Regions from separate parts of the Homo sapiens genome. Here region 1 is linked to region 2. The links come from fine-mapping of genetic effects on gene expression. Tissue or cell type: whole blood. Region 2 holds a variant in brackets; the other region holds the start of a gene. All regions are shown on one strand. Distances are between the middles of the regions.

Evidence for each region. PIP is the estimated chance that this variant, and not a neighbour inherited with it, causes the effect.
Region 1: it holds the start of STARD8, and the variant in region 2 is fine-mapped to the expression of STARD8 in whole blood (TOPMed, PIP 0.98).

What each region holds. Positions count from the first base shown.
Region 1 is chrX:68,646,717-68,649,216 of GRCh38, forward strand. STARD8 (StAR related lipid transfer domain containing 8) reads left to right here and starts at 950. Exons shown (of 15, transcript NM_001142503.3): 1 at 950-1,211. The coding sequence starts at 1,167.
Region 2 is chrX:68,698,745-68,701,500 of GRCh38, forward strand. The region is part of intron 2 of STARD8 (StAR related lipid transfer domain containing 8); the gene reads left to right. Among named protein-coding and RNA genes, the nearest start is that of STARD8, 52 kb to the left of the region's middle. The variant C/T (reference allele first, on the strand shown) is at 1,660.

The DNA.
Region 1 (2,500 bases), 52 kb before region 2:
AGAAAGCCTCTAGAACTGCCTGCTGCTGACTTTCTTTCCTTTCAGGGCATCCAGAGGGTTCAAGTTTAGATTTCAGGCTAAACTTCTGGGCTTAGAGGGTCCTGAGCATGGGACTGGATAAAGGAGGGAAGCCATCATCTCTTCAGAAGATGTTCAGAAAAGGGCATACACCCAGTCTATCTGAGCTGGGAGAGAGCTGCTGTTATGCCCTGGGGCAGGGGGATGGATGAAATGGCATTTGAGGGCTCAGATTCTCTTTGGGGCAAGACCTGACTTCCTATGGACTCCCAGGAGCAGCAGGGGAGTTCTGAGAGGAACTGTGATTGTCCAGAGTGGAGTTTCTTTGAGACTTGCCCTGTACCTAACCCCAAACAGATTTGATACTTAGAGACCTCTAACCCGGCATCTCATTGTACAGCTGGGAAAACTGAGACCCAGGAGGAAGGGGCCTCTCCGAGATGCCACAGTGAGTCAAGAGTCCTCACTTCAGAGGGCTGGAGAATAATCTACTGAGGCAGGGCCAGGGCACCTGTCTGAGAGGGGCTTCTAAGGCTGCAAGCTTTTCCCCTTCCGTGGACTGCATTCACACCTTGTTCGGTCCTGCTGGGGCCGGGGCTCTCCTTCCTTGCCCCTTTTCCTTGGCACTCTTTCCACAGGCCCTGTGTGGTCTGGGCTCTACCGAGAGGTCCCCAAGGAGAGCTGGCGTGTCAGTCAGCCAAGAAGCAAGCAGGCAGGCAATGCCAGCATGCAGGTGGCGGGGCTGGCAGGGGAGCCGGCAGGAGGGCCGGACACCCGGAGCCGGGGAACTGTAATGTTCAGGGAATTTCAATTGGCATTGCTGTCCCGTTCCAGCCAACTGGCTAACGGTGCCGAGTTTGAATCAGTGACCCGCCTCCTGGTCCCTCCTCCTTAGCCGGCCTCTCTCCCTCCCTCCTTTTTTCCCTCCCTCGGTGGCCTTCCAGGAGGCGGGAGGCGCCCGCTGTCGAGGCAGCTGAGCCCCGGCAACCGCTGCTCTCCGCCTCTCCCCTCGCGGGGCCGGCTCATGGAGCGCAGGGACCGGGCTGGCTCTCGCCGAGCCCCGGGCCTCTTTTAGCCTCGTCCCCAGAGAGGGAGGAGCCGGTGCCCGGCACAGCCCCGCCGGCCCTAGAAGCTCCCCACGCGCCACCATGCCTCTGCTGGACGTTTTCTGGTCTTGCTTCAGGAAGGTGAAGGTAAGTGACTGGCCAGCCCCAGCCCATCCCGCTGCTCAGGGGGGAAGGAGGCAGATGTGGACCACTGCGCACCAGCTGGGAAAACGGACCAGACGGGCTTCTGAGACTACCTGAGGCTCTCGGAGTTAGAAAGGCTTGGGTTCAAGTCTCACCTTTGTCACTTAACCAGTTCTGTGACCTTCTGTTGCATTCCCATACAAACAAGTCTGCTAGTTGGCTCTTTTTAATAAAACTCGCCTCTGTTGCTTCCTGGATCTTGCCACAAAGGCAAGATACTTAACCTCTCTGAACCTCAGTTTCCTCTCAGCTTTAGAATGAGGACCATAGTAACACCAACCTTACGGGGTGATGAGGTTGGTGTTATTGTTTACATAGCAAATGTATGCAAATCCAGGAGATAATGTGTGTAAGCTTCCTAGCAGGATGCCTGGTGTGGAGCATCCACACAAACAATGGTATCTATTATTATTATTATTATTAATTTCTATCCATATATATAAAAGCACATACTCTGTGCTAGGCACCACTGGAGCTACACAAAGACAAAAAAGGGCTGGACACAGTGGCTCACGTCTGTAATCCCAGCATTCTGGGAGGCCGAGGTGGGAGGATCACTTGAGGCCAGGGGTTCAAGACCAGCTTAGGCAACATAAGGAGACCCCCATCTCCATTTTTTAAAAGAAGACAAAGAAGGACATGGCTTTTGTCCTCAAAGAGAATATAAGAAAAGTGACAAATATTTACCAGGCACCTACTATATGCCAGACATTGTGCTAAATAGTCAGTTTGTCAGTAAATATTTGTTGAGTGTCTACTATATCCTGGCCATGGGGGATACATGAGCACAGCCGAACCCACAAGTGTGTGTAAAGCATGATTCCACTCTCAAGAACCAAGAAACTAATATTTATTTAGTATCCACTATGTACCAGACCTAGGCACTTTTAATTCATTCATGTGGCAGTGATCCTCAGCACAACCCATTGTTTTCCTGCTTTTATAGATAGGGAAAAGACACTGTGAATAGTTAAGAAATATTTACAAGGTTGCTCAGATATGACTGGCAGAGCTGGGATCTGAGCTCCTAAGTCCATGCCTTTCTTGACGCTGTGTGGTTTCCCACAGTCCAACCCAGTAGGAAGACTTTCAAACGACTAGCCTGACTGTAAGACAGGATGAAAGAATGCTGGGACCTTTGGGAAGGAAAGATCCATTCCACCGGGAGGGACTTGGAGAGGTTTCACAGGAGGTCACATTTGGGCTGAGCCTGAGGCTTAAAGGAAGAGAAG
Region 2 (2,756 bases):
CTCTATAGCTTTCTCTCGGTGAGTGATTTTTGCTTTCTCTGGGCCTCAATTTCCACAACTATAAAGTGGGTAGGGCAGTTGGCAGGCAGACTCAGTGGTCTGTGAGCCTTCCTTTCAGCTATGCAAGTATGCCTCCCCACTCAAGACCCTTTTCTTATCTACCAGGCAATGGTGAGCTGGCTTCAAATTCAATCAGGCCCAGACACTGAATGTTCTCAGCTGGCTGGGTCAGTTGGAGCTGGCCAAGCCCTGAATTGCCACAGCTTGGGTTCTCCTTGTGCTTGGGCATTTCTGCAGTTTGCTCTCTGGCCCCTCCCCAAGCCTGTGTCTGTCCCTAGTGGCCAGCCACTCTCTGACCCATTCAGCCACAAGTTAATGAGTGAACTGCTCCCCCTGGGTCGTACCAGCCCAAGGTGCTCCTGGGATCCTAGGTCCCTGTGGGAAGCAGCCAAGGGCCTAGCCAGCTCCAGTCACCTTTATGCTCTCTCCCACAACCCCTCTAGAGGTAGGTATGCAGGCAGAGCTCAGGGCAGAAGGACCTTTAGAGGGCACTAGGTCCAACTTTCCTTCTGAAGCTTGGGGCTTCCCGACAGGTACTTGTGCAGTTCCTGCTCACTCATGTTCAATACCTGGGAATGTGATATGTTTCAAGCAAGTTGCTTTCGTCTTTGGAATGTGTGAAAGTTTTCTCTTATGTTGAACTTAACTGTGCCTCCCTGAGGCTTCTAACCCTGGGTTCCGAGTGTGCCCTCTGGGACCACCTGGACCCTGTCTGCTCTCTCTGACCTTCAGGGATCTGAGGATGGAACCCAAGTGCACCTGTGTCTTCTCTAGGCCAAACAACCTTCAAGCGTCTGCGCTCCTTCTCAGACCTGGAGCAGCCCCCTTCCCAGCCTCATCACTGTCCTCTGTCCTCCCTACATGCTACTGTTTATGGCCCCCTTAACATGTGGGGGCAGGAAATGGGGCACTGGAAACCCCTCACTCCCCTTAGTTTATTTATAGTCTGAACTTGTTCAGATGACTTTTCCATAATCCTTTTCTGGTTACCACAACAGGTAGACTCCTAACCCCCAGAATCTTGGGTGCAAATACCTTAGACAACACTGATTTGTTTATGGTTCAGGTCCAGCCAGCTCTCACGATTGGAGAGCCCTTGGAAGGTAGGGCCTTCTTATTGGTGCCCCCATAGTGGAGGACAAGCCTGGTGTTAGTAGGTGTTCCCCTTGTTGAGTTAAATACAATGTAATATGTGGGGGGCTTCCAGCGTACCCTGCTTTCCTGCCACTCGGTTTTATCTTTGGAGTTGGTCAGGGGTGGGTGGAGGGAAGGGGATATTTTAGGGAGTACTGAAGCCGGAAATGAGTATGAGCCATGCCCACAGTGGGGCCTAGAAGAGTGAATCAGACAGTGAGAAATACCAACGTAGCCATTCCTTCCCCTGGCAGTTGATGATGATGACTATGAGTCCTCCCATTTCTTCAGTTGCCAAGGCACTTTCACTTCCATGATTCCATTGTGTTCTTAGAGCAGCCCTGTAAAGTAGATGGTATGATTTCCCCAGAATGATCTGTGGTGGTCTCCACCTGAGGCCCAGGGAAGGGAAGAACAGTCTCCAGTGAGGGAGGATTTGGAGCCCAGGTCTCCTGACCCTCAGCC[C/T]TCCCTGTTTTCCCCAAACCACACCCAGCAGCCATGGCAGCCGGGGCTGACTCGGCAGCTTCCCCACCACAGAGGAACCCCTGCCCTGGCTGCAACTCTGTTCCTGTGAGAGAGTGAGCTCCAAGGGACGTGGCCTAGGATTTCCTGTCCTTTATCTGGGCTGGCCAAAGGCTGGCCTGTCTGAGGTGTGAGATAGGCACCTGCAGCCAGCCTTTCTGCTCCAGGCTGAGGTCAAGTCAGGCTGTGGCAGAGGCAGTGAGCTTGTGGGAAGAGCTTGTCCCCAAACATCTGTCCTGAGCAGTGCCCACACCAGCAGGGCCTTCTAAATGGGAAAAACAGAGAGGGGAATGTGGAAAAGGGGTCAGAGTGGAGCAGAAGTAAAATACGTCCTGAGCTGTACACAAGCTCTCATGTTCACAGTGCTGGGAGACTTTGGGCAAATTACTTAACTTCTCTGAGCCTTCATTTTGTCAGCTCTAAAATGGAGATATGTACCCACCTCATGGAGTTGTTGAATATTAAATCCAACAATATAAATAAAATTATTGCCATTATTGTTGCTTGGTAGTACCTTCTGCAGTCCTGTCATTTGGTTGTTTTTCACTGACCTGGGGGTGGGCAGTTCTCAAACCTGCCACCTCGTGGGCATTCGGTCTGGACTTTGCAGTCATTTCAGAGTCCACCTTACCCAGAAAAGCTCCCTTTGGCCATGCCCACCCACAGGGCTCCCTTCCTCTGGCCTTCTTTAGTGGCATTCGCGACACTCAACAGGCTATAGTAGTGATGGTGACACCAATAATAATAGTGAACTCTTCTAAATTCTTGGCAAATTTTAACTTCTTTAGCATTCATGGCAATTCCATAAGGTAGGTACTGCTATCTTTGTCTCTCTTTTATTTAATAAACTTGCCCAAGGTCACATATCCGGGGAGTGATGGAGCTGGGATCAGGACCCAGGTGGTCTGACTCCACCTCCTGACATCTTTAATGACTGGGCCATGCCTCTCTCCAGATGCCTGGCCAGGAGGCAAGAGCTGAGGTTCGGGTCTCCTTCCCCACCTGAGTGCTCATCACACGCACCAGTGATCAGTCACTTC